Linked DNA regions of Homo sapiens. The protein of the gene in region 1 purifies or fractionates together with the protein of each later gene. This does not show direct contact. Each region holds a gene or a part of one and is shown in the gene's direction. Other genes may lie near its edges.

What was found.
Region 2: the proteins of RPL26L1 (region 1) and NPM1 purify together in Homo sapiens (affinity purification with mass spectrometry; 3 studies listed by BioGRID and IntAct, with this or other methods). This does not show direct contact.
Region 3: the proteins of RPL26L1 (region 1) and NIFK purify together in Homo sapiens (affinity purification with mass spectrometry; 3 studies listed by BioGRID and IntAct, with this or other methods). This does not show direct contact.
Region 4: the proteins of RPL26L1 (region 1) and NSA2 purify together in Homo sapiens (affinity purification with mass spectrometry; 3 studies listed by BioGRID and IntAct, with this or other methods). This does not show direct contact.
Region 5: the proteins of RPL26L1 (region 1) and NOL12 purify together in Homo sapiens (affinity purification with mass spectrometry; 3 studies listed by BioGRID and IntAct, with this or other methods). This does not show direct contact.
Region 6: the proteins of RPL26L1 (region 1) and DHX8 purify together in Homo sapiens (affinity purification with mass spectrometry; 3 studies listed by BioGRID and IntAct, with this or other methods). This does not show direct contact.
Region 7: the proteins of RPL26L1 (region 1) and RSBN1 purify together in Homo sapiens (affinity purification with mass spectrometry; 3 studies listed by BioGRID and IntAct, with this or other methods). This does not show direct contact.

Annotation. Positions count from the first base shown.
Region 1 is NC_000005.10:172,965,924-172,969,423, forward strand, and holds part of RPL26L1 (ribosomal protein uL24-like), read left to right. Parts: intron 1-2,535; coding exon 2,536-2,676; intron 2,677-3,489; coding exon 3,490-3,500.
Region 2 is NC_000005.10:171,390,849-171,394,348, forward strand, and holds part of NPM1 (nucleophosmin), read left to right. Parts: intron 1-456; coding exon 457-576; intron 577-857; coding exon 858-951; intron 952-1,861; coding exon 1,862-1,968; intron 1,969-2,065; coding exon 2,066-2,130; intron 2,131-3,500. UniProt on the Homo sapiens protein: Involved in diverse cellular processes such as ribosome biogenesis, centrosome duplication, protein chaperoning, histone assembly, cell proliferation, and regulation of tumor suppressors p53/TP53 and ARF.
Region 3 is NC_000002.12:121,730,376-121,733,875, reverse strand, and holds part of NIFK (MKI67 FHA domain-interacting nucleolar phosphoprotein), read left to right. Parts: intron 1-1,671; coding exon 1,672-1,780; intron 1,781-2,771; coding exon 2,772-2,983; intron 2,984-3,500.
Region 4 is NC_000005.10:74,773,749-74,777,248, forward strand, and holds part of NSA2 (ribosome biogenesis protein NSA2 homolog), read left to right. Parts: intron 1-119; coding exon 120-312; intron 313-2,855; coding exon 2,856-2,923; 3' UTR 2,924-3,500. UniProt on the Homo sapiens protein: Involved in the biogenesis of the 60S ribosomal subunit. May play a part in the quality control of pre-60S particles.
Region 5 is NC_000022.11:37,689,343-37,691,658, forward strand, and holds part of NOL12 (nucleolar protein 12), read left to right. Parts: intron 1-1,354; coding exon 1,355-1,452; intron 1,453-1,831; coding exon 1,832-1,994; 3' UTR 1,995-2,316. UniProt on the Homo sapiens protein: Multifunctional RNA binding protein that plays a role in RNA metabolism and DNA maintenance. Participates in the resolution of DNA stress and the maintenance of genome integrity by localizing to sites of DNA insults.
Region 6 is NC_000017.11:43,490,475-43,493,974, forward strand, and holds part of DHX8 (ATP-dependent RNA helicase DHX8), read left to right. Parts: intron 1-690; coding exon 691-776; intron 777-1,708; coding exon 1,709-1,818; exon of another isoform or gene 1,819-1,900; intron 1,901-2,187; exon of another isoform or gene 2,188-2,206; coding exon 2,207-2,566; intron 2,567-2,970; coding exon 2,971-3,115; intron 3,116-3,208; coding exon 3,209-3,412; intron 3,413-3,500.
Region 7 is NC_000001.11:113,795,477-113,798,976, reverse strand, and holds part of RSBN1 (lysine-specific demethylase 9), read left to right. Parts: intron 1-940; coding exon 941-1,614; intron 1,615-2,673; coding exon of another isoform or gene 2,674-2,676; exon of another isoform or gene 2,677-3,500. UniProt on the Homo sapiens protein: Histone demethylase that specifically demethylates dimethylated 'Lys-20' of histone H4 (H4K20me2), thereby modulating chromosome architecture.

The DNA of each region.
Region 1 (3,500 bases):
CCTAAAATACGGGGCTTCCCCTATGATCTCTGCATCTGGCAATGGCATTGCCATCCACCTGGTTGCCCAAGCCAGACTCTGAGTATCATCCTTCCCTCTTCATCCTCACCTCTCCAGTCTAGTCGACCAGCCGACTTAGTCTTATCCTGTCTCCTGTCTTCCTCTTCACTATGTCCAGAGGTTGTCCACTTCTCTTTTTAAAAATTTTTTAAATTAATTTTTTATTTTATTTTATTTTGAGACAGGATCTCACTCTGTCACCCAGGCTGGAGTACAGTGGTGCAAAAACAGGTTGCTGCAGACTCAACCTCCTGGGTTCAAGTGATCCTCCCACCTCAGCCTCCCGAGTAGCTGGGATCATAGGCGCATGCCACCATGTCTGGCTAACTATTTTTTTTTTTTTTTTTTTTTTTTTTTTTGTAGAGACGGGGTCTTGCTATGTTGCCTCGGCTGGTCTCCAACTCCTGGACTCAAGCAGTCCACCTGCCTGAGCTTCCTAAAGTACCAGGATTACAGCTGTGAGCCACCATGCCCGGCCTAAGATCTTTCTTCAGTCTTGGCCAGGTGCAGTGGCTCACACATGTAATCCCAGCACTTTGGAAGGCCAAGGTGGGTGGATCTCTTGAGCTCAGGTGTTTGAGACCAGCCTGGGCAGCATAGTGAAACCCTGTCTCTTAAAAAAAGTGTGTATGTGTGTATTTCTTCAGTCTTGATGGTATTAACAAGACTTCTTCCAGGTGTGTCCTGAGAGTCTCTGGTCATGTAGTCTGTGGTAGATTTTTCACTGAGATATGATTGTCCTCTTCAACCTAAAAATCGCCTTGGAAAATAAGCCAAACAAGCTATACGTAGACATTTTAGGAGTATTGGGGTTCTCTAGTTCTTTATATGTGGTATCTCCTCTATGCTTATTAATCAGAGTCACATCGTACCTGGTGGTTTTTTTTTTTTGAGGCGGTGTCTCGCTCTGTCGCCAGCCTGGAGTGCAGTGGCACCATCTCAGCTCACTGCAACCTCCGCCTTCCAGGTTCAAGTGATTCTCCTGCCTCAGCCCCCCGAGTAGCTGGGTCTACAGGCGCCCACCACCACGCCCAGCTAATTTTTGTATTTTTAGTAGAGACAGGGTTTCACCATGTTGGCCTGGATGGTCTCGATCTCTTGACCTCATGATCCACCGGCTTTGGCCTCCCAAAGTGCTGGGATTACAGGTGTGAACCACCGTGCCCGGCCCCCATGCATGGTGTTTAATAAGCTCTTGTGGCTGGGCATGGTGGCTCACACCTGTAATCCCAGCACTTTGGGAGGCCGAGGCAGGCAGATCACTTGAGGTCAGGAGTTCGAGACCAGCCTGGCCAATATGGCGAAACCTGGTCTCTACTAAAAATACAAAAATTAGCCAGGCCTGCTGGTGCGTGCCTATAATCCCAGCTACTTGGGAGGCTGAGGCAGGAGAATCACTTGAACCTGGGAGGTGGAGGTTGCAGTGAGCCAAGATCATGCCAGTGCCCTCCAGCCTGGGGGAACAGAGCGAGACTCCGTGTCAAAAATAAATAAATAAATAAATAAGCTCTTGCTTTCAAGGAAACCCTAATCTAGTTGGTTTTTGAATAGAGTAGATTTTTAGTACAGTAAAACAGTCTGTGAGATTTAAAATTTTTTTTCTGACTTTAAAATATTTGTATTAAATGTAGAAATGTTGAAATTTAGAAGAATATAAATCTAAAAATCAGTCATCTGTAATCCTGCTTCCTGCCTAATGGCAGCTGTTACCAATATTTATATATATATTTTATCCCACTGTGTCATGCTATATATATGAAATGTGTGTGTATATATACATATATACACATATATACGTATGTATACACATATATGTATATATGACATATAAGTACATATATGTATGTATGACATATATGTATGTTACATATAAGTACATATGTGTATGTATATGATACGTGTATGTATATATGACATATAAATACATATACGCACATATGTAATATATATTATATATATACACACACACATACACTCATATAGTTTGAGTATCTCAAATTCAGAATGCTCCAAAATCTGAGACTTTGTCAACGTGATGGTCAAAGGAAGTGTTCTTTGGAGCTTTTGGGATTTCAGATTTTCAGATTTGGGGTGCTTAGCTAGTAATGCAGATATTCCAAAATCCCAAAAACCCTAAATCCAAAACACTTCTGGTCTCAAGCATTTCGAATAAGGGATACTTGACATATATATGTATATATATATAGTTCAGAGTATATTCTATATGTAGTTTTGTATTCTCCTTTTTCCTCTAAAGCTCATATCGCACATTTCTGTGGGATCCAGGTAAAAAATCTCCACCCAACCATAGCACAACACAGATTTATATCAGAAAAGTAGCTAATTTTTGACTGCCAGGATTAAGCTGCTTTTGACAAAGTTATATGTTTAGCCCATGTGTTCCTGATGGTTAGCTTCCTCTTTATGATCATGCACTACAAATGGAGGGGGATTCTCTTTTGTATTTTCTCTTAGGTAGTTCGAGGACACTACAAAGGTCAGCAAATTGGCAAGGTAGTCCAGGTGTACAGAAAGAAATATGTCATCTACATCGAGCGGGTGCAGCGTGAGAAGGCCAACGGCACAACTGTCCACGTGGGCATTCACCCAAGCAAGGTATGGTCAAGGACTGAGTGGCAGTAGCAGCCATGGAGTGTGTCAATACTGTTCAAAGTTATTGGTGTTTTGGTACTCCCTGCACAGTTGGCTGAGGCAGGCCAGGTGGACTTGATTGATTCAGTAGCTTTGTGATATCATCAAGGATCCAGATTTTTCTTCTCTTCTCTTTTCTGTTTTGCCTTTCTTGGTGATGGCTGTGTCTTTTTTTTTTTTTTTTTTTTTTTGAGACGGATGCTCGCTCTGTCACCAGGCTGGAGTGCTGTGGTGCGATCTCGGCTCACTGCAACCTCCACCTCCTGGGTTCAAGCAATTCTCCTGCCTCAGCCTCCCAAGTAGCTGGGACTACAGGCACACACCACCACGCCCAGCTAATTTTTATATTTTTAATAGAGATGGGGTTTCACCATGTTGGCCAGGATGGTCTCGATCTCCTGACCTCGTGATCCGCCCGCCTCGGCTTTCCAAAGTGTTGGGATTACAGGTGTGAGCCATCATGGCCGGCCGATGGCTGTGTCTTTAAGCTGGTTGCAAGAGGCTTCCAAGTGTTCTAGGCATCACTTCCCCTACCACATAATATTCAGAGGAATAAGAGAGAATATATCTTCCTGTAGCCCTCATGCCTACCTAGTGGAACATGCTATTTTTCCTTTGTGTTCCTATTTTGTATTGTGTTACAGGGTCTGTTTTCCTTCCAGAGTTTCAGTTCCTTAAAAGCTGAATGGCTGAGGTCTTACTTAACTTATGATGTCTATATTGCTCAATAGCTGGTGGGGATGCAGAAATAAAGACCTGTTTTCTCACTCCCAACAGGTGGTTATCAC
Region 2 (3,500 bases), 1.6 Mb from region 1:
AGTAGCTGGGATTACAGGCATGTGCCACCACACCTGGCTAATTTTTGTGTTTTTAGTAGAGACGAGGTTGTTACCATGTTGTCCAGGCTGGTCTCAAACTCCTGACCTCATGATCTGCCCGCCTCAGCCTCCCTAAGTGTTGGGATTACAGGCATGAGCCACCAAGCCCGGCCCTTTCCTATGCTTAGATGCACAAATACTGTGTTTCGGTTGCTTACAGTATTCAGTACAGTAACACTGTACAGGTTTGTAGCCTAGGTGTGTGTAGTAGGCTATACCATCTAGGTTTGTATAAGCACATTCTTATGATTGTACAAAGATGAAATTGTCTAACAACACATTTCTCAGAACCTAGCCCTGTGGTTAAGTGACGCATGGCTGCATATAACATTTAGTGGGGGGGTGTAAAATAGGTGGAACTCAAAAGTTGAAGTAGTATTTTTTTTTTGTTCACAGGTCAGTTTAGGGGCTGGTGCAAAGGATGAGTTGCACATTGTTGAAGCAGAGGCAATGAATTACGAAGGCAGTCCAATTAAAGTAACACTGGCAACTTTGAAAATGTCTGTACAGCCAACGGTAAGGGCACTTACATACTTTGGATGTTGTGTCAAGGTTTAATTCTGTTTTAAGGTAGGTTTGGTGTCATTTAGTTGTGCCAAGGAGATAGAAAGTGGTTCTTTATCTTCTGTCACTGGAGTTCGATGGTCAACTCTTGAACATGGGGGCTTCTGCTGCTACTTTTATCAGAGGTGGAAAAACAGGTTCACTGGTTTGTTGATTTGGCTTATGTGTTTGCCTGTAATGTTTATTGTTCATTTTCTTCACATGTTTAGTGATGAAAAATTTCTCCCTTCTAGGTTTCCCTTGGGGGCTTTGAAATAACACCACCAGTGGTCTTAAGGTTGAAGTGTGGTTCAGGGCCAGTGCATATTAGTGGACAGCACTTAGTAGGTATGTTATTTTTATATATTATACTACTTAGTTTGTCCTCTTTAGTGCAGTTGCTTGGTTCCCAGTTTGGACTTAAAGCATGGGTATAGTACTACTGTCTTTTTAATAGGTTCCAATGTGAGTCTAGAAATTGGAGAGGACAAATAAATTTTTGGGGCGGGGGGGAGAGGAAATCTTGCTGTCACCCAGGCTAGAGTACAGTGGCACGATCTTGGCTCACTGGAACCTCTCCGGGATTCAAGCGATCCTCCTGTCTCAGCCTCCCCAGTAGCTGGGGCCACAGACGTGCACCACCAAGTCCAGTTGCGTTTCATAGTTATAGTAGAGAAGGGGTTTCGTGATGTTGGCCAGGCCGATCTTGAACTCCTGGCCTTAACGTGATCTGCACGCCCTGGCCTCTCAAAGTGCTAGTATTACACGTGTCAGCCACTGTGCCTGGCCTAAAAATTATTTTTTAATAAAGACAGTCTCATTATAACGGCTGGAGTGCAGTGATGTGATCATAGCTTGCTATATCCTCGAACTGCTACTGGGTTCACCTCAGCCTCTGGAATAGCTAGAACTACAGGCACACTCCACGCCTGGCTAATTTTTTTTGTATATGTGCAGATGGGGTCTCAGTATGTTGCCCAGATTGGACTCTTGGCCTCAAGTGGTCCGCCTTGGCCTCCCCAAAGTGAGATTACAGGCATGAGCCACCCTCCCCAGGCTTCTTGCATTTAAAACCTGGCAGTGAACATTAGGCCTCAAAATACTTTTGTTAAAAAGTTCCTTTTCCCATGTGCTCTTTTTTTTTTTTTTTTTAAATAGAATAGAAGTCTCAGTTTTTAGAGTATTTACTATCAGTGTTCTTTTTTTTTCTGACTTCTTGCTGCTTGAGTTTTATAATGTCTAATAAATTGTATTTTAGCTGTGGAGGAAGATGCAGAGTCAGAAGATGAAGAGGAGGAGGATGTGAAACTCTTAAGTATATCTGGAAAGCGGTCTGCCCCTGGAGGTGGTAGCAAGGTTCCACAGGTAGAGATGGCAATTTTATTATAGGTTTTGTATTATAGCTTTTAGTTTGGTGATAGAACAGCTCTTGTTCATGAGTACGTATCTTTTCTTTTAAAAGAAAAAAGTAAAACTTGCTGCTGATGAAGATGATGACGATGATGATGAAGAGGATGATGATGAAGAGTAAGTATGATTTTAGAAACTTGATATACTTCCGGAATCTTGACAAAAAAAGGAATTTGACATAGTTATATGCATGAGGGTTTTATAAAAGTCATTTACAAAAAGCCATCCTATGTAATAGTTTATAATAAAAGGGCAGGTGGTCATCTGTTGTCAGTTTAAGTTAAATGAGCTGAGTTGAAAGGATATTGGGTCTGTGAGCCTTTACAATGCTGTGACTTGTGACTCTTCAGAAGGGTAGACTATAGTGTTTGTGAAGTTTGATTATGTCCCTTTGTTCTGAAGATTTAGTGGATGTGTTATACCCATCAAGCCTGGTATGTTTTATGGTGAGCAGTTAATGAGATTGGGTTGAAAGAAAATATGATTAAATAGCTCTATATTCATTTTACAAGTTGTTACTCAAGGTTTGTTATTCCCTAAAAGGATTTTGTCTTATGGTTTTATGTAGATATTTATTGACAAAAATAAGATTCTAAAAGGGATATTAAGATTTTCTTGGGATTTAAAATATGGTTGGAAACAATATTTGATGACTTTATATTAAACTAGATCAAACTATTGTTACAAACAGTTAATACGCACACTGGTATAAAGTACTGTTTATAATTGGTCTTATGTGTGCCAGTACCAGTAATGCATTGAATACTTTGATTTGGCTCTCAGCTTTGTCCTTCAGTTCTGAGGTTGGTCCATATGCATTTATTGAAAACAAATATAAGAACATGCACTTTAAAAGAGAACCTGCATGAAAGATCAAATTGGGAGTTTAGGTTTTAAGCTGGTGGTTCTTCAAAATCTTTGAGCATGACGATGAAGGCAGAAAACAGGAAAAAGGCCGAAAGAGCCGAAAGCTTAAAAATTCAAAGTATGACCAGGCGCAGTGGTTCACACCCGTAATCCTAACACCCAGCCAAGATGAGAGGATCTCTTGAGGCCAGCCCGGTCAAAATAGCAAGACCCAATCTCAAAAGAAAAATAAAAATTCAAAGTACTTGCATGTCAAACTTATAAATGAACGCAAACTTAAAGGTAGTATTTGACTGTTGCTGTTTTTGTTTTCTTTTTTTTTTTTTTTTTTTTTGAGATGGAGTCTCCAGTTGCTCAGGCTGGAGTGCGGTGGCGCCATCTCGGCTCACCACAACCTCTGCCTCCTGGGTTCAAGCGATTGTCCTGCCTCAGCCTCCCGGGTAGCTGGGACTGCAGGCTCGGGGCACCATGCCCTGCTAATTTTTGTATTTAGTAGAGACAGGGTTTCAGTATGTTGGTCCGGCTGGTCTTGAACTCCTAACCTCGTGATCTACCTGCCTCGGTCTCCCAAAGTGCTGGGATTGCAGATGTGAACCACTGCGCCCAGCCAAATTTTTGTA
Region 3 (3,500 bases), on another chromosome or scaffold:
TTTTTACCATCACAAAGAAGATGAGGGTTTTAAAAAAAGTTTTACAGCACAAACCAGCACACATACATATGCATGTAAGCATAACTGAAATAAAAGCCAAATGAGACAATATTTAAACTTGTTTTGTGTGATGCGCTGATTTTCTATTTCATTCTATTCATTTTTTTTTTGTTTTGTTTTGGTTTTGTTTTGTTTGCGACGGAGTCTCACTCTGTCGCCCGGGCTGGAGTGCAGTGGCACAGTTCCTCAGCTGACTGCGATGTCCGCCTCCCGGATTCAAGTGATTCTCCTGCCCCAGCCTCCCGAGTAGCTGGGATTATAGGTGCCTGCCACCATGCCTGGCTAATTTTTTTTTTTTTTTTAAATGGAGTCTCACTCTGTTGCCCAGGCTGGAGTGCAGTGGCACAGTCTTGGCTCACTGCACCCTCAGCCTCTCGGATTCAAGTGATTCTCCTGCCTCAGCCTCCTGAATAGCTGGGATTATAGGCGTGCACCACCACACCCAGCTAATTTTTGTATTTTTAGTAGAGATGGGGTTTCACCATATTGGTCAGGATGATTTTGAGCTCCCAATCTCAGGTGATCCACCTGCCTCGGCCTCCCAAAGTGTGGGGATTACAGGTGTGAGCCACTGTGCCCGGCCTAATTTTTGTATTTTTAGTAGAGACACGGTTTCACCATTTTGGCCAGGCTGGTCTCGAACTCCTGACCTCAGGTGATCCACCCACCTCGGCCTCCTGGAGTGCTGGGATTACAGGCATGAGCCACCCCTCTTGGCCTAGTTTTTCTTTTTTGAGATGGAGTCTTATTCTGTTGCCCAGGCTGGAGTGCAGTGGCGCGATCTCAGCTCACTACAACCTCTGCCTCTCAGGTTCAAGTGATTCTTCTGGCTCAGCCTCCTGAGTAGCTGGGATTACAGGTACATGTCACCATGCCCAGCTAATTTTTTGTATTTTTAGTAGAGATGGGGTTTCACCATGTTGGCCAGGCTGGTCTCAAACCCCTGACCTTGAGATCCACCCTCCTTGGCCTCCCAAAGTGAATATTTTATATTTTTAGTAGAGATGGGGTTTCACCGTGTTGACCAGGCTGGTCTTGAACTCCTCACCTCAGATGATCCACCCTCGGCCTCCCAAAGTGCTGAGATTGCAGGGGTGAGCCACCGCGCCTGGCCTTCCCCTCTCTTTTGAGTGTTGGGATTATAAATGGATTTTGAGGGATTTAAATTTTTCCCAGAATCCACCTGTTGAAGATAATTAAGCTGAGACTCAGTTGTGGAAGTGTCCAAGTTGCTTGTTACTGACACAACTGGTGCTGGAAATGAGCCTCCTGATTCCCACTGTTAAGCCATGTGACTTTTAAGTTGAAGACTTTTTTAATATCACGGAGTGTTGTTACTGAATAAATTCCAGCCATAGGAATTGTGTATTTATCATATGTAACCAAAATCCCAAGAATACCAGAAAATCAGCTGTGTGTTCAGACTCGTGCATCTTTTCTTTTTCCCATAACAGTCCCCGGAATATGTGAATTGAAGTTAGAATTAAGCGTGTCGTACGTAATATTTGATAAGGGGCTAATATACATTATTTAAAATAATGGCATTTTAGGAATTTGATGACGCATTCAAATTTAATTGTTCTACTTTTTGTGGCGGTTTCTCTGTTGCAGACTGGAAATAGCAAAGGCTATGCATTTGTGGAGTTTGAGTCTGAGGATGTTGCCAAAATAGTTGCTGAAACAATGAACAACTACCTGTTTGGTGAAAGACTCTTGGAGTGTAAGTGCTCCTGTCTTACCGCAGGGTTGCCTGGGTGCCTGCTGTTGGTGGGTGACTGTGGTGGGAAGGGCGGCTTGCCTAGCTGCTTGGACATGCCACTTCATCTCTGGGATGAGTCTTACAGAATGGTGCAAGGATTTCAGTGTATGTTGCAGGCAGATTCTAATTGGAATTTTAAAATCTAGCCTGAGAGCTGTTTTTACCCTAAATGGAACTGGACAAGTTACCTTGGGGACACATGGGAGGAGCAGCTAACCCATCCTTATGGGCTGTGAAAGGCTTCTCTAAGGAAGTATAGTTGACATTGAAACCTGAAGACTAAACAGGAGTGAGCCAGGTGAAGGGGACAGGAGTGAAGACAGACCATTCCTGGCTGAGGGACAGTGAATGCCAAACCAATGATGCCTAACCATTCAGCTGTGAGAGAATGTGAGGAAAAGTAGCAAGAGATGAAGGAGCAAGAAGAGGCTTCAGGTCAGGTTACTGAAGGCCTTCTAAGTCAGCGAGTTCCGAATTTATCCTGAGGGCAGTGGGGATAGCATCAAAGGTCAGGAATCGCGTTGCAAAATCTGTCTAAATGGCAATGGCTGTAGCTCTTCCACACGAGAGAAGCCAGAGGGAGTGGAGGAGTGACGCACCAGATGAGTAATTTATCCTGCAGAAAGAAGCCAGTGAAGCCCCCTACCCTGCAGTCCATAGGGTGCAGAGAGCATCCCTGTCCAGATCCTGCTGCCCTTGGGAGGCAAAGCGAAGTTTCTGGCTTCCCTGTGCCCATGGTGGCATGTGGCCGTCTTAGGTACCCAAGTTCACAGCTGACAAGGCTGCCCAGGTCTTGTCTCTCTATTCACTTCGCATTGCTGTGAGAGAAGCTGGGATTACAGGTGTGAGCCACTGTACCCAGCCATATCATTTTGTTGTGTGAGGAATGGCACTGCGGAGATTCTAAAGTTAACATTAAAATACCTTTATGTTTTTTTCTTTTTGAAAATAGGTCATTTTATGCCACCTGAAAAAGTACATAAAGAACTCTTTAAAGACTGGAATATTCCATTTAAGCAGCCATCATATCCATCAGTGAAACGGTATAATCGGAATCGGACACTAACACAAAAGCTACGGATGGAGGAGCGATTTAAAAAGAAAGAAAGATTACTCAGGAAGAAATTAGCTAAAAAAGGAATTGACTATGATTTTCCTTCTTTGGTAAATATTCGTGAAATCTTTTTTGTGGTTTGTTGTGGGGAGGGGAGGGGGCAGCTTTGTACCTTGTAAAGTACCTAGCCTAGCACTTACCACAATCTTGACTCACTGCAACTTCCACATCCTGGGTTCAAGCAATTCTCCTGCCTCTAGCCTCCCAAGTAGTTGGGATTACAGGTGCACACCACCACGTCTGGCTAATTTTTGTATTTTTAGTAGAGACGGGGTTTCTCCACGTTGGCCAGGCTGGTCTCGAACTCCTGACCTCAGGTGATTCACCCACCTCAGCGTCCCAAAGTGTTGGAATAATAGGCATGAGCCACGTGCCCAGCCAGTTTTTTGACTAAACTTTTTTTTCTTTTTTGAGATGGAGTTTCACCCTTGTTGCCCAGGCTGGAGTGCGATGGTGTGATCTTGGCTCACCGCAACCTCCGCCTCCGGGGTTCAAGCGATTCTTCTGCCTCAGCCTCCCGAGTAGCTGGCATTACAGGCATGCGCCACCACCCCGGCTAATTTTGTA
Region 4 (3,500 bases), about 98 Mb from region 1:
TGACATTATTCAACCATAGTTTTTTGGAGATGGTTGAAAAAGATAAGCGAAAACGACCACTACTCATCACTGTTAACATTTTGGACGTAAACATTCTTATGTTGTGTTTGACTTACTAGGGCTTGCGTTTCAAGAAAGCCCATGTAACACATCCTGAACTGAAAGCCACCTTTTGCCTACCAATACTTGGTGTAAAGAAGAATCCCTCATCCCCACTGTATACAACTTTGGGTGTTATTACCAAAGGTACTGTCATTGAAGTAAATGTGAGCGAATTGGGCCTTGTGACACAAGGAGGCAAAGTTATTTGGGGTAAGTGAATTTTTGAATACAGGGCTGCTGTGTTCTGCAGTACTAATAGAAATACTATTCAAGTTGATGTATTAATAAAATATACAGCAAATTTTTTTAATGCAGTAGAGCTAAAACACTGTAAATCAGATGTAAATATTTAGTAAAAAATACTTTATAGAAAAAGTTGTTATAAATACAATTGTTTTAAAATTTAGCTTACTGGTTTTAGTTACATAAGGTGTAATACATTCTGCTAGATTTATTTTTATCCTTTTTAGCCAGGCACAGCAGCTCACGCATGTAAATCCCAGCACTTTGGGAGGCTGAGGCGGGTGGATCACCTGAAGTCAGGAGTTTGAGACCAGCCTGGCCAACATGGCAAAACCCCACCTCTACTAAAAATACAAAAAAATCAGCCGGGTGTGGTGGCGAGCACCTCTAATCCCAGCCACTTGGGAGGCTGAGGCAGGAGAATCACTTGAACTCAGGAGGCGGAGCTTGCAGTGAGCTGAGATTGTGCCACTGCACTCCAGACTGGGAGACAGAGCAAATCTCCATCTCAAAAAAAATTTTTTTAACCTTTTTAATAAAAATTATTATAAGGGAAGCAGATGCAAAGTTATAACTAAGAAATATTATAAGAAAATAGAATAAATTAACCATGAGCAGAGGAAGGGAGGCATATATCAAACATATTTTAAAAGTGAGGTCAGCTTACATGAAGTATTAGCCAATGACTAAAGATGTCTTCCGTAAGAAAAAATTTCTTTTGCCACAACTTTATATTATGTAAATACTTCTTATATTTACATGCTAACATTAAGAGAAAATACCTATTACATTTAAAGAAATAGAACTATCTGTCCCACGTAGGTAAACTGATCATTGAAACTGCCAGGAGCGGTGGCTCAGCCTGTAATCCCAGCACTTTGGGAGGCTGAGGCGGACAGATCATCTGCAGTCAGGAGTTCAAGACCAGCCTGGCCAACATGGTGAAACCCCATCTCTACTAAAAATACACAAATTAGCCAGGTGTTGTGGCCCACACCTGTAATCCCAGCTGCTCCGGTGGCTGAGGCAGGAGAATCGCTTGAACCTGGGAGGTGGAGCTTGCAGTGAGCTGAGATCGTGCCATTGCACTCCAGCCTGGATGACAGAGCGAGACTCTGTCTCAAAAAGTAATAATAATAATTGAAAGTGATTTAACACAGTTTAGTTCGTTCTGTTAATTCCCATTAACAGGTCTCAGAAATCATGTAGAAGCTTCCAGGCTTTAAAAAGCCCCCTCGCTATCTGGGCGCAGTGGCTGACACCTATAATCCCAGCACTTGGGGAGGCCGAGGCAGGCGGTTCACTTGAGACTGGAGTTGGAGACCAGCCTGGCCAACATGACAAAACGCCGTCTCTACTAAAAATACAAAACAATTAGCCAGGTGTGGTTGTGGGTGCCTGTAATTCCAGCTACTCGGGAGGCTGAGGCAGGAGAATCACATGAACCTGGAGCTTGCAGTGAGCTGAGATCATGCCACTGCACTCCGGCCTGGGAGACAGAGCAAGCCTCCATCTCAAAAATAAGTAAAATAAAAATATTTTGATCTTTTTTAATAAAAATTCTTTATTACAAGGGAAGCAGATGCAAAGTTATAACTAAAAAAAATTGTAAAAAAAAAATAGAATAAATTAACCATGAGCCGAGGGAGGCATACAACATATAATCACACTAGATCAGTAATAATTAAAACAGAAATGTGTCATGCAGTAATTTTAAACGCCCTCATTTGCTTAGTTTTCTACCTTTAGTACCCAGATCCAATTTCTTTGAAAGGGAAGAATACACGCTACAACTTCTTCAGTCATTGGTTTATACTTCATGTCAGCTGACCTCAGTTTTAAAATATGTTGTTACCTTGACTTGAAACTCATTTGAAACTTGATACATTTTCCAGGAAGAATTATGTGAAAAAGTGACAATGCTCAGGTCAATCCACAAAAGCCTGTTAATGCAATGTACTAATAACATGGAGCTGGCCATTATTTGCAAAAACACTATTTGTATGAAAATTGTATTCAGAACTCAAATTTGTCCTTAAATGATTGAATTTTGTAAAATCTCATTTATCCTTTATGGTTCATTTCTTATTTATTGAAAGTGGTAATTAGAAATATTTTAGGCATGGCTGGGCGCAGTGGCTCACACCTATAATCACAGCACTTTGGGAGGCCAAGGCAGGCGGATCATTTGAGCTCAGGAGTTCGAGCCCAGCCTGGGCAACATGGCAAAACCACATCTCTACAAAATACAAAAACAAAAAAATTAGCCAGGCAGTGGCGTGTGCCTGTGGTCCCAGCTACCCGGAAGACTGAGTGAGGAGAATCGCTTGAGCCCAGGAGGCAGAGGTTGCAGTGAGCCAGATCACGCCACCACACTGCAGCCTGGGGAATAAGAGTGAAACCCTGTATTAAGACAAAAAGAAAAAAAAGGCAAAAGTTATATTCTTTAAAATTAATTTTTATTAGCTAACAACCCTCCCTTTTCCCTTTTTTGGTTTTGTTTTCCTTAGGAAAATATGCCCAGGTTACCAACAATCCTGAAAATGATGGATGTATAAATGCAGTCTTACTGGTTTGACAGCAATTTCATATATAATTATTGAGGACTACACACCAATTGAAGAAACTGCCATTACTGTGATGTTTCTGAATACTACCAAACAGCCATACATGTCTGCAATGAAGAGATTTATTAAATTGTAAACATTAAAGTGGTCCAGTTTTATAAATGGTCTTTATTTTGAAATACGCTTTGACCCCATGTTCATAAAACTGAATGATTGAAAAAAAGCAAATATACAAATATCCTACTTCATCAATATCTGCATTTGTGAGTGGGTATTCAGCAATTTCCTGAAAAAACCACCAGTGTTCATTGAAAATGCCTTTCAAAAAGGTTAATACACAATTATGTGTCTGAGAATTTAACTGAAGTATCTTCAAAATCTCGTTAATCATTAATCCTAAAAAAGGTAGGTAGCATTAATACAGATGTTAAGTTTATAGTGTTTGTTTACACTAGAAGTATGTGAGAAGACACTAAAAGTTCAGAAATCTTAGAGAAATCTTTTCACCTGTGAAATCCAGTACAGCAAAGGTCTAGTGAATTCACATTCTAAACATTTTTTTCATCTCATTTACCATGTATAATAATA
Region 5 (2,316 bases), on another chromosome or scaffold:
GTATGAGGGTGAAAGTGGTTAATCCATGTGAGTCACCTGGCACAGTGCCCAGCCCTGTCATAAGTGCTTCACAAAAGGTAGCCGTTTGTTGTGATCGTTCCCTTTGTGCGATTCGCAGCCCTGGCACGTCTGTGTGCACTAAGTGGGTTTTCAACCTGTGGGTTGTGAATCATGAGTAGGTTGCAATCAGCATAAAAAAAAAATATAATTGAAAATATCCGAAAGTGTCATGTTAAATATTGTTTCATGAGACAGCTGTTTCCACTGGAGTTGTATCTGGGTGTGCCTAAGGATTTATGGACATATATGCACACAATTACGATATAAAACACATTTCCTTGTGTGGGTTACTGTGTTCTTAAGTCCTGGAGCCACTCCCCTATCACATCCATACTGATCTCAGGGCCAGGCATGGTGGCTCACGCCTGTAATCCCGGCATTTTGGGAGGCCAAGGCGGGCGTTATCACCTGGGGTCAGGAGTTTGAGACCAGCCTGGCCAACATGGTGAAACCCCGTCTCTATTAAAAGTAAAAAAATTAGCCAGGGGGCCAGGCGCAGTGGCTCATGCCTGTAATCCCAGCACTTTGGGAGGCCGAGGCGGGCGAATCACCTGAGGTTGGGAGTTCGAGACCAGACTGACCAACGTGGAGAAACCCTGTCTCTACTAAAAATACAAAATTAGCTGGGTGTGGTGGGACATGCCTGTAATCCCAGCTACTCGGGAGGCTGAAGCAGGAGAATAGCTTGAACCTGGGAGGTGGAGGTTGTGGTGAGCCGAGATCGTGCCATTGCACTCCAGCCTGGGCAAAAAGAGCAAAACTCCGTCTCAAAAAAAACTTAGCCAGGCATGGTGGCGTGCACCTGTAATCCCAGCTACTCGGGAGGCTGAGGCAGGAGAATTGCTTGAACTCAGGAGGCGCAGGTTGCAGTGAGCCACGATTGTGCCACTGCACTCCAGCCTGGGTGACAGAGCGAGACTCCATCTCAAAAAACAAAACAAAACAAAACCATACTGATCTCACACCGGTCTTTCATTTTATGCTCACTATTCTGCAAGTTCTGATACAAAGACAAGTCTTGTCCCCGTTTTGCTAGGATTTTCATTCCTGAATGTTTAAGTATGTCCTGGAAGCTTCTAGGGGCAGGAAAGGGTTTGGAAACAGACCTTCCCCTGTGTAATCCTTGCTTTAGGGCAGATAGACTTCTTCCATCAGAAGCCTTCTCTAGTCCCAACCCAGGCCTGTGATGCAGCAGGGCGCGCCACCACTTGCCAGAGCCATGGTGGCTCGGGGTGCCCAGCCCAGGTCCCCCCAGCTACTGCTCCATGTAAGTCATTGTCTTGTGCCTCTTTAGGGAGGGGCTGGAGACAGGTCTGAGGAGGAGGCGTCATCCACGGAGAAACCAACCAAAGCCTTGCCCAGGAAGTCCAGAGACCCCCTGCTCTCTCAGCGGTGAGTCTTGGCCTGCTGCCTCCCCGGTCCCACCCCTCCTGGCTGGCAGTAGTGACCTGGCCCTTAGGGTGGTGTGGAGCAGGTGTAGGGCCCGGAGCAGCCCTCTGCCTGTCCAGTGATCCTCTGCCTCTCCTCATTGCCCCGTCCTGTCCCACCCACCCCTGATAGTGTCTGACCTCCAGTGCTTTTCGTGCCTGGGTGAAGGGCCTGTGTCTCTGAGCTGAGTTGCTGGCAGGCACTCTGGAGGTAGAGCAGGCCAACTCTGGCATGAACTTGGCGGTCCTGGCATTCGCAACCTGTCCTGACATCCCCTCCGTGAGCCAGGTGGTGAGTCACCCCACAATGCAATCTTAAACTGAGGCTTTCTGCCCTCCCCTAGGATCTCCTCCCTCACAGCATCACTACATGCACACAGCCGCAAAAAGGTCAAGAGGAAACATCCCCGACGGGCCCAGGACTCCAAAAAGCCCCCAAGGGCCCCTCGTACCAGCAAGGCCCAGCGCCGCCGTCTCACAGGCAAAGCACGGCACAGCGGGGAGTGAGACCGAGAACGAAGCGGTGCCCCAGTCTAGGCTGCGGGGACCTGTCCTTGCTCAGCTTGGCTGTCCCTGTAGCCCAGCCTGCACCTAGGTAATGACTGCACAGCTCAAGGTTGGGAAGCCAGGACCTCTCTGGCCTGGGGCCAGCTGCCTTTGCCTGGGGTCAGCTGCCTTTGCCTGGGGTTTGAATTCCCGAAGGAGCAGGCAGCTGAGAGCAGGCCTCCCCCAGGAAGAGCCTTCAGAGCCACGTGGGGGCATCTTCCCAAATGTGCACCCCACCTGGCACTCATCAGATTTGTGCGCTTGTGATTTGTTTGTCCTTGAT
Region 6 (3,500 bases), on another chromosome or scaffold:
TTCCAGCTGAGCTTAGCTTCTAGAATGGTGTAGGTTTTGAACATCCTGTAAATTGCATTTGTTTTCCTCTCAGCAGTTGCTGAGCAAGTAAATGTTCCAGTAAGATTTTTCAAATGGGCTGGGCCTAGCGGCTCACTGCTGGAATCCCAGCACTTTGGGAGGCCAAGGTGGGAGTATCACTTGAGCCCAGGAGTTTTAGACCAGCCTGGGCAACATAGAGAGACCTCATCTCTACAAAAAAATAAAAAAATTAGCCAGGCATGATGGCGTGCCTCCGTAGTTCCAGCTACTTGGGAGGCTAAGGAAGGAGTGTTGCTTGAGTCCAAAAGGGTGAAGCTGCAGTGAGCCATAGTTGCACCAATGTACTTTAGCCTGAGTGACAGAGGTTTTTTTCCCCGTTTCAAGGGGAAAAAAAATTTCAAACGACTTAAGACAAAATAAAAAAGATAAGACATAACCCAATGAGTATTGCTACACTCCTCTTTCTGCTACATTTCGAGATAGTTTGTGATCAATGTATTTAGAAAATTAAATTACATTTATAGTAACAGGTATGATTAATATATAGCAAAATGCCATGTTCTGTTTCAGTTTGATACAAATCTATTGTTGAAGTTATTTTGTTAATCATTAATAATATTAAATATATATCTCTTTTTTTAACCCCTTCATGCTCTTTAATGAAACAAGATCCAGTTGTTAAACCTAAAACAGAAAAAGAAAAGCTGAAGGAACTCTTCCCAGTCCTTTGCCAACCGGACAACCCTTCTGTTCGGGTACTGATACCATTTTAAGAGTGTCTACTATAAATATATATTCTCAACCCCTTTTCTTTGTCTCATAGTAATTTTATTAATTTTAAGTTTGCCTTTGTTGTAACTTATTTTTAAGAATGAAAGTGTTTGATCACTCCCTGAGCATGTACTATGTATTGAATTTGTTAAGGGGTTCTGAGAATGATATTCAAGGGAAATGAGATTGGGAATTTGGGGAAGTAGTGATTAGGAATATGAAATAAGGTTCTGGAACAGATGCCTAAGGTGTGAAATTAGATTTTTTTTTTTTGCTCTGTTACTTGTTAAAGGTCTAATTTTTAAAGCATTTTGATTTTTAAATTTCATTTTAATAAATATTTATTGAGTACTTACTGTATGCCAAACACTGTTCTAAGTACCTGGATAACAGCAGTGAACAGAACAGACAAGAGTTTCAGCCTTTGGAGATTATATCCTAATTTTGGGGTAGGGAGCAGGAAATAAACATGTAAACATTCTGGTGGGGAGGAGATAGGCAATAAACAAACAAATAGGTATGTAACATAGCAGATAGCAATAAGGGCTATTTAAAAAAATAAAGCTGGAGTGGGGGTAGGGAGGAAGAGTGCAGAGGGAGAGTTGCTTTTTAAAATTTTTAACACCTGTTTTCTATTAATATAATCATCACTTGCATTCTTTCATGGCAGGGATGATTAATATCTAACTGCCTTTCATAGAATTCTATTAAGGACAGAGGGGATTTGTCAAATGTAGCAGTAATTCTCAAGAGCCTTTTTTCCATTTCTTCTGCATCTATCCTGAATCAAGTTTGAAATCTCTGCCCCTCTTCTATTTCCCTCACATAGTGATTAGTGATTTATAGATGTACCTGAGGTACATACAGATTCTTGAGTAGTTTTTTTTCCTAACTTTGCCGGCCTCTACCTCTGCAGACCATGTTGGATGAAGATGATGTGAAAGTTGCTGTGGATGTCCTGAAAGAACTGGAAGCTTTAATGCCCAGCGCAGCAGGCCAGGAGAAGCAAAGAGATGCTGAACACCGGTTTGTCCTTAGTGTCCTGTCCTTTGGAAGTTTAGGGTACTGTGACAGTTGAATATTATGGACCAGCCAAGCAAAATTTTGGGCAAGTTTACAGAATCTGGACTGGTCATATATCATATTGTTGGATCTGTTTTCATTGCTTCCTGCTAAGTGTATGTAGCAAATGCTAGGTTGTTCAGAATATAGAAGTCAGGGTTGAAAGAGGCTGAATATGTTTGTGGCTCAATTCTTTATTGGCTTATAGGGATGTCGTAGTTATTGAAACTCTAATTCAGTTCAAAACCTAGTGGGTACCTACCATGTGCATGGCACTGTACTGGGTGCTTGGGGATGCGAAGATGAAATCGGATTGGTTTCTTTTTTAAACAGGTGCTTATTGATTTGTTAGGGACAGGACAAAGAAGAAGAAGCGGAGTCGAAGCCGAGATCGAAACCGAGATCGAGACAGAGATAGGGAACGAAACCGAGATAGAGACCACAAGCGGAGACACCGATCCCGCTCTCGATCACGTTCCAGGACCCGGGAGAGGAATAAAGTGAAGTCTAGATATCGGTCCAGGAGCAGGAGTCAGAGTCCCCCCAAAGACCGGAAGGACCGGGACAAATATGGAGAGCGGAATCTGGATAGATGGCGGGATAAGCATGTGGACCGCCCTCCTCCAGAAGAGCCCACCATTGGTGACATTTATAATGGCAAAGTTACCAGCATCATGCAGTTTGGTTGCTTTGTGCAGCTGGAAGGACTAAGGTAATGACTGGTGCTCTTTTGTTCACACCAGTGATGGGCAGAATTTCTTTTATCACTGAGGATGTTCACATTCTAAAAAGTTACTTTGATTAATGACACTTTAGTCAAATCAGCCATACATGGTTCTTAGAAATTGACTCTTTTGAAATGTTACAGAGCCATTTATTCCTTTCTCTGTCTTCAGGAGATCTGTCCTTTGCTTGTTGGGACAGATAGAATTTGCTTCCCCACCCCATGTCTCCCCATGAGGAGAGTGTTAATACTATTTTATTGTTTGACCACCTTCATGGTACTTTTCTCTTGAGTTTAAGACCATTTTCTTTTGTTAGTTCCAGTAAGGGTAGAAATTGGTTGGGGGAAAAATATTTTTTGGCATGTTCCAGATGTGTCTGGCTCTCCCTCAGGAAGCGGTGGGAAGGCCTGGTGCACATCTCTGAGCTCCGGCGGGAGGGTCGTGTGGCCAATGTAGCTGATGTCGTGAGCAAAGGCCAGAGGGTCAAAGTCAAAGTGCTGTCCTTCACTGGGACCAAGACCAGCCTGAGCATGAAGGTAGGTGAGATGGTCAGCCTGTTCTTACATGTGATGGCCAAGGGAATGGAAGAGGACAGCAAGTGAGACAGCTCCCTTGTTTTTGTGCCTTAGGATGTGGATCAAGAGACTGGAGAAGATCTAAACCCAAATAGACGGCGAAATCTTGTCGGGGAGACCAATGAGGAGACCTCAATGCGGAATCCTGATAGACCCACTCACTTGTCCCTTGTCAGTGCTCCTGAAGTAGAGGACGACTCACTGGAACGCAAGCGCCTCACCCGAATCTCTGACCCAGAGAAGTGGGAGATCAAACAGGTTGGGGCCTTTAGTTTTCATGACCAGATAGTCATTCAGCATGTAGCATGGTGCTTAGGGGTGTGCCCTGGAGCACGATGGCCTGGGA
Region 7 (3,500 bases), on another chromosome or scaffold:
AAGCTTAAGGGAGCCCATAGCAGGAGTAGCTATCCAGATTGGGTGGGGAAGAAAAGGCTTTCTGAAAGAATGAGTCTAAGCATTTTGTAACCTTCTAATTTTTATGTCAGTTTTTTCATCTATAATATACTTTACAATGGCTGAGTAGTGTTTTATAATATGTAACTACCAGAGTTTAATCAGTCCCCTGTTATTAGACATTTAGGAGCATTCCCTGTTGTGTCGTTTTAAATAATACTGTAATGGATATCTTTATATAATCTTCAATTATTTTCTTAGATAACTTTTACTTGGAAGTGGAATTTCTGGGTCTGAGGATTAGAAATATTTTTTAAGACTTTTAACATGTATCATGAAATTGCCCTTCAGAAAGTTGTACCAGTTTATACTTCCAGCAGTAGTAGTTGAGAATGACCAGAAACCGCAGACTTTGCCAACTTGATAGGAAAAAATGATATCTCATGGCTTACTTTGCCTTTGTTGATTTACCTGTATGTATCATAGTAATTCATAGGCTGACAGCAAAATATGCCTAGCTTAAATTTAAATTTTATGATGATAACTGAACAAAAGAATCTATGTTGTTACATAGATTTCAGAATCATCATATTTAGCTATCGTATAATGTTTCATACCATTGCTATATCATGATTTATTTAACCATTCTCTGTTTTTTGGATGTGTGAATTATTTCTGATTTTTCTCCATTATCAGTAATATACTGCTTTGAAAAATGGATACCTTCAATTTTATTCTTTTCTTCAATCCAGAATATTATTATATTTAAGATCTCTGTCTCATTTGTTTTCTAAACACGTAAGTTGTAATAGCAAATTCAGAGAAATTGAGGATAGGCTATTTAATGAGATCAAGTACCTTAAGAAGCTTGTATGTTGACACTAGTCCTAGCAACTAACTTCTTTTTAATTATTGTGGCCAGAAACACCAGATGAAAATGGTAAAACCCAGAGAGCCGATGATTTTGTCTTGAAGAAAATAAAGAAGAAAAAGAAAAAGAAACACCGAGAAGACATGCGAGGAAGACGCCTTAAAATGTACAATAAGGAAGTACAAACCGTCTGTGCTGGCCTGACCCGCATCAGTAAAGAAATTCTCACCCAAGGACAAATAAATAGCACTTCAGGACTTAATAAGGAGTCCTTCAGGTATCTGAAAGATGAACAGCTGTGCCGATTAAATTTGGGTATGCAAGAATATCGGGTACCCCAGGGAGTACAAACACCTTTTATGACTCACCAGGAACATTCTATTCGTAGAAATTTCTTAAAAACAGGTACTAAATTTAGCAACTTTATTCATGAGGAACACCAGTCCAATGGTGGTGCTCTTGTCCTTCATGCTTACATGGATGAACTCTCATTTTTGTCTCCAATGGAGATGGAGAGATTTTCTGAGGAGTTTCTTGCTTTGACATTCAGTGAAAATGAGAAAAATGCTGCTTACTATGCTTTAGCAATAGTGCATGGAGCGGCTGCTTATCTCCCAGACTTCTTGGACTACTTTGCTTTTAATTTCCCCAACACTCCAGTGAAAATGGAAATTCTGGGCAAGAAAGATATTGAAACAACCACCATTTCAAATTTTCACACTCAGGTAAGATAAAAATTGTTGTTAAAAATTAGTAAATACGATTCTAAACAGAATTAACCTCTTTCTGTCGCACAGCACATACCAGCACATTTTTGATAACAAATTTATGGTAATAAAGGTGCTTCAAATTGTTTGTCTCTTCCTCTAATTGAAAAATCTTAATTACTGAGTTCGGGTGGGGCTTCTTCTTTACTGGAGGGAATGCTTTATACATGTTATACATCATTACAAATCTTTATGGAAAACTAGCTTGAAAACTTACCTGGTCTTTCACAAATCGGGTAATGTTAGTATGGAGGATGTGATTGAGATCTGTTAGTCTCAGGATAACTTTAGTTAAGATTTGCTTTTATATCATAATAAAACACGTGAGGGCATGGGCCTGTTTATATGCCAGGTTTTTGGAGTTTTTATATCTCTTTCAGTAACTTGTTGGCAGTCCATCCCAGAAATATACCCCATTTATGTGACTTGGAAGTGTCATTAGGAAGACCGCCATAGCCTCTGCTCCTTCTGCCTATACATTGTTGTAGGTGAAGACATTTTTTGAAGCCTTGCATGGGCAGCTAGGCTTAAGTCAGCAGGGAAACGTCTGCTTCTTAACCAGTGGTTTTAACCAAACATTTTTTTCAGTGAAGTTATTTTAGGGAATAAGAAGTTAATAATGTGTCCTAGTTTTTTTCTTACTTGCTTTTCTCGTAAGAATTGAATATAAATGGTCAGCTATAAGTTTCTGCAGTATATATTATAAATTCAACTTTAGTGGAGACTTTCACTTTTTAAACTTTTATGATTATATGTTCTGTTTTTTCAGGTTGTCTAGTAATTTGCTGCCATTCTTTTCCCTTAATATATATATATTTTTTTAGGTAAATAGATTGTTGCCGTAATAAGACTCTCAGCTGCCTGAATTATAGTGGTTTCAAGCCACTTAGATTTATTTGAAACCTCCTCTAACTTGAATCTTTTTAGTGAGTCTTACCATCTTTGCCTCCAATGAGGGGAGTATCCAGTTTAGATTTATGAGCTTCAGAATTTCTCTAATTGAAGTTCTCTCTGCAGTAGAGAGAGCAGGAGCAGCCAATGTGGAGAGGTCGCAAGATGGGGCTGCCCAAGATGTTGGAACACCATGTGCAATAAAGGGCTTCGTCTTGGATTTTGGCCTTATTACCACAACCAGGTACCGAAGTGCTGACTTTTGTAGTAGATTTTCTTTTTTCATTTTCATTTTTTTTTTAAGTTTTGCCCTTTGAAGGTCAAGGAATCCTATTTTTATAAATATTGCAGATGAGACTGAAAACATTTCTCCTAATATAGTCCATAATCCCCATAAGTTCCCTATTTAACAAGGAAAGATATTGCTGAGAGCAGAATCAACATGCTCTATCATTTTTTTAGTTTAGAAAAATGCAGCAAATTTTCTCTTTTGATAGACCAACAAGCATTTCTGAGAAATAAGCCAGAAATTTGGGGGAAAACTGTCCCAGTTTTGTAAGGGTGTCTTTTTAACATTCATATTAGTTAAAGTGGATCAAATTTGTATGTCAACAGACAGTATCCAGTCTAAATAGTTAATAAAAGAAAATATCTTGAAATATTCCCTGCTGATTTTTGTCCTCCAATTAATTTTTTAAAATGGAGCTGAAATTTAAATGACTGTACCAACAACTTACCTTGATACTTACTTTGAGATTTAAAAAATAACCACTTTTTAAGAACATTTCAGATTATGATTAAATTAGATATTAAACGCTTCAACCACATAAGAATATTGAGGACTGTTGAATGAGTCCTGTGCTCTGGTGGTCCTGGAACTTAATTTTATTTATGAATTTTCAGTCATTAGAGAAGAGTATGGTGTGGATATGGGAGGTTGGATTAGCCGACTA